2 separate regions of the Homo sapiens genome follow, and region 2 is linked to region 1. Evidence: fine-mapped expression QTL. Tissue or cell type: prefrontal cortex. Region 1 holds a variant in brackets; the other region holds the start of a gene. All regions are shown on one strand. Distances are between the middles of the regions.

Region 1 (5,387 bases):
GACAACTCTTGATCAAAGAAAGATTTCTGTGAAGCTGATTTTTTTTTAAGTTTTTAAATAATGTCACATTGAACAACACATTTAACAGCTGAATAATTTGTAATGAAGACTAAGCAATAGTTAAAATATAACATTATTAACAGTTGTGGAAAATACAGAAATTTATCATATCATTAAACCAGTTTTTATTAAAAAACAAAATGTGATGTTAGGTCAGTTCAGGGATAAATTAAGCCATACATTATATTGACTTCCACTTACATGAGATTCCTAGCAATCATATTTGCTGCAATGATTACCCACTGACTTGCATTCATTATAACAAGGTACAAATAAACCAAATGGCCAAACAGCAACCAAAATATACTGTTTTAAGAGTTAAACACATTCTTAAAATTAAAATGCTAAAAAGTACCTAAGAGACTTAATTGGGACTCTCATATTTCAAAAGATTTTGGGTTATGATGACCTAGATTAGTTCCAGGAGCAGTAGCTTGTTTACCAAATCTAAGATCTTGGAAAGAAGAAAATGTTCTAGCCTGTTTTTGGCATCATTCATACTACATTGTTTAAAATGAGCTAGAATGGGGGTTATTTATAAGCTAAGCTACTGGACAAACACTTCATCTAATAATATCTTGTATACACATAAGTCAGATTTAATAAGAATCAAGATCAGGTATTAAGAATTCACTTTTAATATCCTATATACTTTGTCTTTGTAAATTAGTATCACCACTATTACATAAAATGTGTGCAGAGGTGCATACGGGTTTTTCTTTATCCATACTTCTTTTAAAGATATATTCTGGGATGTTGTTAATCTCCTGCTATTACAAAGAATGCTATGTTTGATTCAATCTGAAATTGAAAACCAATCACACATTTTTTATTATAATAAAATAACATTTTATGAAAAGTTTTTCCATGAAGACAATGGATCCCATATTTACTTGTCCCTTTGACAACTGCAACTTTGTGAAATAATATTTTGTAGATGAAGAAACTGAATCATAGAAATTAAGGTAGCCGTTGGGTTACCCTGTAAGAATCACCAACTCTAGGTTTAATTCCAAGTGCTGTTTTTTTTTCCACAATTACCTATCACTGATACATGTCATTACCTCTGCTAATAGAGACAAACAGTCATACAAATGACTGATTCTGCAGTTTAAATTCTGGAGAATGTTAACAGAAATCTGGTAGAGTGACACAGTTGTATGTGTATTTAGCCAATCTTGTGTAGGTGTAAGGAGACTCAATCATTAAGTCCCCAAAGCTTTAATACTGTTTGCTTTGCATTTAACATTTTTTAAAATTTGCTTATTTGAAACTATTTCACATTGGTTTGCTTCCAAGTGATATGACTAAACTCTTTTGGCTACCTCAAACTCTAGCATGTCTAAAACTGAATTAGTTTTCCTCTGAATAAGAGTCACCATTATTATCAGTGGCATCCTCCCAATTCCCTAAGCTAACAAACTTCGGAGAGAACATACTCATTGACTGTGTGTTTAGTAAGTGCCTGGCACAACCACTTCACTCAGATTATGTCATTCTAATAAAGTTATAAAATGGTGTAAAATACTATTACTATCCCAGTTTTAATCAATAAAATGGAAACTCAGAAAAGTCAGCAACTTTAGCTTACACAGAGAAGGTAACAAAATCAAATCTTGAACACTTTTAGTTCTAAGTGCTAAAACAATCTGTAGAATTAATGTGTGTAAAATTAATATAAAGAGTTGAGACTATAATTTTCTTTTTAAATAAAGTAGAAAAAAGAAAAAATCAGTCATCATTGCTTATAGCAAGATTGGTAAATAACTTGTTTTTGGGCAGGGGTCGATAGGGATGTTGTCATGGGGGAGCAATGTGAAATGTCTAATTGTGGATTGCAGTCAAAAAAATTGTAAAGTCACTGCTCCATCTGACACTGTCTCTCAATTACTACCATCCCCTCCACTGTCTCCAAATAGATATTGGTTTTTACCATATCATATTCAACAAACATGGACTTTGGAAGCACAATAGCTGAAATTAGGTAGAATTTTACTAAATAGAGTTGGAGAAAATAGTCGCTAGAGACGTACAGCCAAAATTCATATACATCACAGGCTGCCACCACTCAATTCTACTGGCCCTCTTTTACTAGAGGTGACACTACTTCTAAAGACACAGATGTTTAGAGATCCCTAAGGATTCACAATGTACAAATCCTATAACTACTGAATATAGCTTTCTGTGTAGAGGGAGATAATAGTTGTCTTTTTCCTTATATAAATGCTAGAGTCAACCTTTCTGTCAAGAGCTCTCCGTTTTCAATGCAATTTCAGTTTATAAAGTACTTATCATTTGAATACCTCAATAGTTTTCACCATTTTAGACCAGCAAGATTTTAACTACAGCACCTAAGAGAGGAAACATCAGTAAGACCTCATAAACTGAGTGCCTCAATTGAAGCTCGCACTTAATGGGAA[T/TA]AAATTTTCATTCTTCATTCACAAAAACAAAACAAACCATCAAACATGCATGCTCCCTTCCCATTCAAACTCAAAATATAGGAGACCACCACAAACAGAAAGGGATAGTGGAGGCCAGGCATGGTGGCTCATGCTTGTAATTCCAGACTTTAGGAGGCTGATACAGGAAGATTGCTTGAGGACATGAGTTTAAGACCAGGCTGAGCAACAGAGTGAGACCTCGTTTCTACAAAAAAAAAAAAAAAAAAAAAAAAAAAGTTAAAAATCAGCTGGGCATGGTGATGCACACCTGTAGTACCAGCTTCTCAGGGACTGAGGCAGAAGGATTGCTTGAGCCTAGGAACTGGAGGTTGCAGTGAGCCACGATTAAGCCACTGTACTCCAGCCTGGGCAACAGGGCAAGAACCTGTCTCAAAAAACAAAAAAAGAAAGGGATAGTAGAGTGTACAATTTCTGTAAGTTTGTACGGGCCATCTGATACTCTCTTACTCCTCTGGGCCAGCTCCCCTACCCCCAACCCCCAGCTCTTCTAAAACATCATAGGGTAACCTCAGCTTCTGATTCACCTGTTGCCCCAGGAAGAAAGGACTTTGTTTTTTGTTTCTTGTTTTTTTCAAACCACAAGTTTCTGAGGGCAGAGGCCATGTTAGTTCTTGCTCATCACAGTACTTCTAGCACATATGTGCCAGGCACATTGAAAGTGCTTGGTTATACTTGTTTCAGTGAACAAGAGAGGGAGAATGGTCCAGATGTCTAAGGTTTTACTATTTCTAACAGTTAAATTCTAAAATGTTGTCATATTTAACCAATATGACTATATAATCACAACTGTTTATTGCAGAAGGAAATATTCATAAGAATTCCTATCACTTTGAAAAAGAACATTTTGTCAAAATATGGGTGTTTGGTAGAAACATTTTAGAAATAGAGCATTTCTAAAACAAAATCCAAGTGTTTTGTACTAAATCAAAACAAGCATCCCATGTTGTCAATCCCTTGATTTCATACAAGGACCCATGTAAATTACAAAATATTAGATGCAATATCCTACAAAACACAGCTGGGGCAAATGAGCTATTTTAATCTATATTTAAGCTATCTAAGTACAGAATGAAATACCAGTTAATGAAAGACAAGACTTGAGTGCACTAGCAGAACAGTAAAATGACTATTAGGGTTATCATAAAATTCATTGCCCACTGAGGTGGGAGGTTTGCTTGAGGCCAGGAGTTCAAGACCATCTTGGCCAACATAGCAAGACCTGTCTCTAAAAAGAAAAAAATATATATTAAAAAAATAAAAAAGTAAAATTCATGATCCAAACAGTGGTAACACACTTAGAGTGAAAGGAGACCATTGTGAAATAGGATTGGACACAGGACAACAGGCATAAACCAGGATCATCCTATGTAGCATTTAACCCAGCCCATCAAAGTAGTTTGAACTTAATGGTACAGTTAGAGATATAAAACAGTTAAATATGTTAAATTTTTTAAGCGTGAATTTTGTATTTCATGAAACTCACTGATATAAGCCCAAAAATAAAATTATGATATCTTAGAACTTACATAGTAGTTGTTGAGCAAGCAACAGGCGCTTAATTTTTTATCAAGCATCTAATAAATACTAATTCTGTGCCAACCTGTGACAGGTATGAGGAAAACAGCTGGGAAGAAGTCAGATGTCATCACCACCCTTGAAGAACAATTATTCTAGTGAAGGAGACAGTATAATATGAAGAAATGAGGGAAGCACAAACTATCATATAGTACCTGGCCTTCTTTCAGTTCCTAAAGCATGCCAGACTCTTTCTAAATTCAGAACCTTTGCACATATACCTTTGGCCTGGGATGTTCTTTCCCCTTACACAGCTGGTGCCTTCTCATCCTCTGCTCATTTTCTCAGGGGCCTTACCTAACCAAAGAGGACTTCTCCTTGCTCTCACTTAGTCACTCTCTTAGCCTTCGTATATTTCCTTCAGCGCACTTGGAATGTGTTTATCTTACGCACTGAAGAAATGCTAATTTATTAACAATAACAACAGGCAAATTTATTGAGTATTTATTCAGAATCAAATACTATTTTCTTTTCTTTTTTGAGACAGAGTTTCGCTTTTTTTGCCTAGGCTGGAGTGCAATGGCTCGATGTTGGCTCACTGCAACATCCGCCTCCCGGGTTCAAGCAATTCTCCTGCCTCAGCCTCCTGAGGAGCTGGGATTACAAGCATGGGCCACCAATCCCAGCTAATTTTTTTATATTTTTAGTAGAGATGGGGTTTCTTCTTGTTGGTAAGGCTGGTCTCAAACTCCCAACCTCAGGTGATCCACCCGCCTTGGTCTCCCAAAGTACCGGGATTACAGGCGTGAGCCACTGTGCCTGGCCTAAATACTATTTTCTAAGCACCTTATATGGATTATCTCATTTCCTCATTACAGTAGCCCTTTAAGTAGGTATTATCACTAGCCTCATTTTTTACACATTGAAACTAAAGAAAAAAATTGTCCTCTATATTTCTAAATAATTAGTTTATACCATTTCCTGATTTAATTTGACAATTATCTCTAATTTCTTATTTCTTTATATCCATCTCTTTCTCAGCTTCCTAGTTTCAAGGATGAAATGTCTTATTTACTTTGAGTCTACTTATTACCATTCGACTTACTTCTAAGAGTATCTATGTATTACTTTGAGAACAATGTCAAAATATAATCACCTAGCCTGTTTCTTTCCAGTTTCCTGATAAAAGCCAGATGATCATTATTTCATTTCTGGTGCCAGAACCTAGAGGCAATTGTGCTCTGCTAGAGGCATGAAGTAATACAAAATACAGAAAATATTCCAGCAACTAGCAGGGAATTTGAGTTTTACTTTTTTAGTTGGACAGGTTGCTTTTCTCTGGGTCTTACA
Region 2 (5,387 bases), 20 kb after region 1:
AATTGGTGAAGAAATCAATTCAATGGGTGGTGACAGCAATTTTTCAAAACGTGAAATAGAATAGAAAATACAACATTACATTGCGCACAGTAAGGGTAAGTACGTTTGTGAAAAGCTTATTTCAATATTTCTGTACTAGTTTGCTAAGTAAAAGATTACTTACACTGGTTTTAGTAAAAGAAAAAAAAAGCCATGGGTCTAAAGGTTTATGTTATTATTATGGAATATAATCACAATACTAAACTCACAATCCCATCATCTTTACCTGAGAATGCTAAAGAAAGCTACAATTTTTAAGGTGAAAACTTCTTTGGAAATCTTGATGAATAAATTTGTTTCCCCTAAAAATCTATATCAGTACGTAACTAAACATTTTATTGTGTTTAACACTAGTTTTGGCTGCAAATACTATTTTTAAAACTGCTTATGACTGTAAAGCAACTTTTCACAACAATTCAAAATAAATAGTGACTTTGATTTTATTTGCTTGTTTATTCTGAGAATCAATTACTAACCTTGGTGCCATTTTTCCAAAGTGATTGATGTAATCTAAAAATCTAAACTTGGCATTCTACACAAGGAACCTGCTCAGGAGCAATACACTTACTAATACTTGATACATACATAGCTGCTGCCTGATTGTATGTAATAGCCAACACCTAAAACTAATTTAAATCACTAAATTAAGTATGGTTTTCTCCAATTCCTTCTGGTGCATTTCAATAGACCTATTTTACCCAGAAAATTTGTCTAATCACTTTGAAAAAATATATGGAAAAACAACCAGTTTAATATATATAAATTTTAAAATAAGCATCTAATTCGTAGGATAAATTAACATTTCCAATCCTAAAGACTTGGATTTGGAAGGAAATCTGTCATCTAGTCCAGCCCCCTACCAAATAAAATAATCCCCACTTCACAATGTTCCTTGGAATCAAACTCATATCTGACTGAAAAGCTCTCACTACTAACCACTACTATATTAACATCTTCTAAAATTGGTTCTTGCCATTAATCAGAAGACTGATAAAGAATTACCTTGAAGTCCTTGAAAAGCAGTGTATATATTATTCTTATAAATCCTGAAAATACAGGTTTAGAAAAGAAGTGACATTTACTTATCACCAGGGATTTCAGTGGCCCAAACTGTCCATATGCTGGTATATTGAATACTGGAGTACTCTGCAAACTTTTGGAGTTTGCTTAAAGCACAAAAATCAACTAATCAAAGTAGTAATAAAATAACAGTTGTCAACTCAAGCTTAAGTTTTCTCTTCATTTTATCAAGTTCACATTCAAGTTTAAAAAGCTTATGAACTTCTTGAAAGTTGAAGTTAGATTGACTACCTAAAAACGAGCAAGTACAACTCTAAAATGATACCTGTATTGTGGCAACAGATACAAATACCATTCTTTACTTTCATTTTGAGATACACTAGAATCTCTCTTGAAGCTAGTGCTTCAGAAGCACTTTTGTAAAAACGCTTAACCTTCTCTTCCATATGCCTTTCTCTACCTCACCAGCTGGAATCTGTCACAAAAACAGATAATCACATATGATACAGAAATAGTTGATCCTACTGCAGAATTAGGTTAACACTTCTAAATTGAGGCATAGAAAAGAAGGGGGTGGGGGAACAAGCCCTACTTAAACAAATCATTTACCTCGGTCTGGCTTCATTTTCACATCCAATTTTCGCCCAGAGTGCTGTGAAATGCACCTGTGGGTTCTTTCAACAGGCTCGCCGCTGATTCTACGGCTTCTGCTTCGCTTTCAAAATGCTGAAAGAGACAAAAATAAAATTAATCTGGCCCTATTCTAATACCCGGACCTTGCAAGTAAACTACTGTTAAGTTAGGCCTCTTCCTGGCACCAACTGCGGTGACAGCACCCTCGGCTGGTCTGAAAAAAGCAAAACTCTCTGCACCGCCTCCCCCATCTCCTCCGGATCGAGCACCCCCTTCCCTGCCTCTGTGCTCTCCAGGCCAATGTGTCCTTCTGACACAGTCTCTGAACCAAAACAGGATCTATTTATAACCTGGAGGTACAGGCAAGAAGAAGAAAAAGATTTGAGCAACACAAACTAACCCCTTCGTACAAAAACGCCTCTGGAAACAGAGGCACCTCCGCAGGGCTGGTATGGAAATTCTTCCACCTGGTGCCTGGGCGCAGCCAACTCTTCCAGTCCCCTGCGCCTCCCGAGCCCTCCGCCCGCCCCGCCGGGCCTCACCTGTGTAATTACCCTCTGGCTAGCCTTCCTGCGGCAACCGCGGCCAAGTTTACACAGAAACCCGAGTCACCTCCTCCCGCCCAGCCCCCAGCCCCAAACGAACTCTTCCGGGCTGTCCCGGGGCGACCCTACCAACTCCCAACCAGTCCTCCGCGGCCGGCTCCGGGGGAGGTGTTTACAGCCTGTGCTCGCCCCCTGCTCTGCACAACCCCTTCCGTCCCGCCGCGGCCCCGGATTTCCTTCAGCCCCGCCGCACCGAGCGCCGCGTCTGCCCCTCTCCCCGCTGGAGAGTTGTTTTCATGGCGCTCTCGAGCTGGCCGGCTCCTCCGCTCCCTCGGCCGACCTCTGCTGACTAACTCGCTCTCCTCTCCCGTCCCAATCCCGCCTCCTCTTGGCACTTCTCTCCACCGCTCGCCCAGCAGCTCACATCACACTCCCACCTCAGACCCCAGGCTCCGAGAGGCGCAGGGCCAGCGGGAGCGGAGTATGGAGCGCAGCGGCCCCCGCGGCTGCCTCAGGTGACCGTGGGGACCCGAGACGACCAGCCCGAAGCGGCTCCCCGGCGCCCCTGTGGCCATCCACCCGCGCCTCAGCCACCGCCTCGCTCCGCTCCCTGCGCTCAGCCCCTCCGCCCTGCCTGACTGGCACCCGAGCCCCGCGACCCCCGGGCTTCCCCCGCCCGTAGCCCCGGCCGGCCCTCTTGCCCAGCGCCTCTGCCAGCTCCTTGCCCGCCCGCTGTCTCTAGCTCTGGCGCCCCGGCTCCCCGTCCCCCTCGCTCGGCCAGTTCTTTCTCTGCTGTTTGCCCTGTCAAAACACTGCCTAGGTCACGTGTCCCAACAACAGCCAACCCACCCCGGTCGTCACTTCCTCCCCGGCGGCCTCCGCGGCCCTGGCGCCCGGTTACTATGGCAATGCCGCCGCTCGCCCCGGGGCGCTAGTTTGGGGCCGGGTTTTCGGTGCAGGTGCCCGGCGGGTGCGAGGGCGCTGGAGATGGCGGCTGGGAGACACCAGCAGAGTCCCGGAAGCCCGAGACGTCCCAGGCACTTCGGTTGCGCTCCCAGCCGGCAGAGGCGCGCCTGGATTCTGAGACCAGGAATCGGAGCTGCGCTATTAGAGCGCAGGGTAACTGGGGAGATGTCATCCAAAGGCCTGCCCCAGACGTGGAGGATAATTATAGTCGTCGTCTCCTCCTCCTCCTCCTCCTCCTCCTCCTCCTCCTCCTCCCCCCTCCCCCTCCTTCCCCCCCTCCTCCTCCTCCTCCTCCTCCTCCCGGGATGCTGGCACAGAGTTGTGATCGAGCCCCAAGTGGATTGCAGCGCATAATGGAACCCGGGTTTAATGTGACCGGGACGGGGGGTGGGCAGCTATGCGGGTCAGGGAGTGGGAGAATTTAAGAACAGGAAGCCCACCCCCACCCTAGATTTTCCCAAATCACTAAGGATTTTAGTAGGATTCAGAACCCAAGCTTCCAAGACACTCGCTGTGCTAAAAATAATCTTCATAACTTCTAAAACACTGACTCATGGGCAGGAGGACACTTTGACAGCATGTTATTGTTGGGGAGCTGTAATTTTGTTGTTGTGCTATAGCAATGTGACATGATGGCATTTCATGTTGTGATGTTGTCGTCATTTAAACACAAACAGATGACAGGAATCTGCTGTACTTAAAAAAAAACCCAATCCTAACAAGCGCTGCAGCTATTAGCTACTCAGTCTATAGACAAAGTACATATGGGGCATGAGCCCAAATGGAGACAAGTAAAAATTTGCAAGGCTCTTTGGTTTCATTAGAAAAAGTTTTTTTTTTAGATATAATTTTGCATAAAAGGATCACAGGAAAGTATTAGGACAAGTCTAAGGGGATTTTTTTTATTTGTGCCCTTCTGTTTTAAAATTTTTTTTACAATGAGTCTATTATTTTCACATCAGAAGAGTTTTATAAACTGCAAGATTGGCAGTTCCATTTTTTTGGCCTCAGGTAAAGTTCTTATGAAAAAGGCATGAAATATTTAAAAAGTAACATTTTCTAGTGCTTAGATATGTACAGTAAAATAACATGTACAACTGAAATTGTTAACCTTAACTCCACGATTGTATCTAATCAGAGCGGAGAGAACATTCAGGAGGGTAACATTTCATTTTCTCTGAAATGTTCTGGCATCATGACGATGAAACTGACAAATGGAAACAGTTCTTTAATCTATAAAATGCTACAAATGTTAAATCCCAGTGGATTTGACTTTGATATTATTGAATACTGTATTATGTAGTTTTTAAAAAATGAACTGAAGTTTTACTTGTTCTACAAGCACTTGGTAATGGGAGACAGAACAGTTACAGATAAGCCAAAAACCTAAATTTAGCACAACAGCTGGGACCAAATAACAGCTATTGTAAAAGGCTTACTGGGTGAACAGGCAGCAAAATCTGGTTTAGCTTCTTTCTTCCTCTATCTAATGCAAAAGAGGTAAAAAGACCAGGAAATGTTGAGAGCAGAAGCCAAGACTATTAGTGTGTAGCACAAACTATTCTCTTTTAAATAATTTTTAACAGCACTTGGGTAAATGATGATGTCAACATTTGTTAGACTAACCTGAAGTTTTTTTAAATTTAGAATCTTAAACCTGTTCAAAAATTTGAAATCATTATGGCAGCAGAAAAAGTATTTAAAAGGTGTATTTCTGACTCATTATTCAAATTGTTTCATTCCATAATATGCATTTACTGAATACTACCTGCTAGGCTCATACAAGTCTCTGAGAATGTAAAGGTCACCAAAACCAGATAGGGTCACTACTTTCAAGGAGCTTATAGTACTATTACAGTTACATGGCCCTAATCAAGTCACATTCTAACACCTTTGTTTCACCTATAAAAGTGAGGTGTTTAGACTCTGACAATAGTTATCGCTTTCTTTTATCCTATGATTATGTAACACATGTTCAGAGCGTTTGGAAATAATGACTTGAAATGGCAATTCACTCTAAGGTGCTCTGTTCACACCTCAGAGCACATAAACAGAACAAATGTTTCTAGTTCCTAGTTGGTGAAGGGTAAGGGTAAGCAAGGGAATCAAGATAGCTGGCAGGAACCTTACCCTCTTTTCATCTGATTTGCTTTCCATTTTGCTTTCCCCTAGGGTTTCAAAGCC

Which allele goes with the higher level. Positions count from the first base shown, and alleles are read on the strand shown. Sizes are in standard deviations (SD) of each study's normalised expression.
With allele TA in place of T in region 1, the expression in prefrontal cortex of the gene that starts at base 3,051 in region 2 is higher (moderate effect, 0.49 SD a copy in BrainSeq).

What was found.
Region 2: it holds the start of ATOSA, and the variant in region 1 is fine-mapped to the expression of ATOSA in prefrontal cortex (BrainSeq, PIP 0.90).

The regions. Positions count from the first base shown.
Region 1 is chr15:52,656,092-52,661,478 of GRCh38, forward strand. The region is part of intron 2 of ATOSA (atos homolog A); the gene reads right to left. Among named protein-coding and RNA genes, the nearest start is that of ATOSA, 21 kb to the right of the region's middle. RefSeq lists an enhancer at 2,992-3,181. The variant T/TA (reference allele first, on the strand shown) is at 2,481.
Region 2 is chr15:52,676,338-52,681,724 of GRCh38, forward strand. It overlaps ATOSA (atos homolog A), which reads right to left and starts at 3,051. Exons shown (of 13, transcript NM_001385016.1): 1 at 2,491-3,051; 2 at 1,669-1,785. The coding sequence starts at 1,684. It overlaps LOC105370821 (a long non-coding RNA gene), which reads left to right and starts at 3,268. Exons shown (of 4, transcript XR_932255.4): 1 at 3,268-3,356. RefSeq lists enhancers at 1,747-1,816, 1,947-2,086 and a silencer at 2,667-2,986.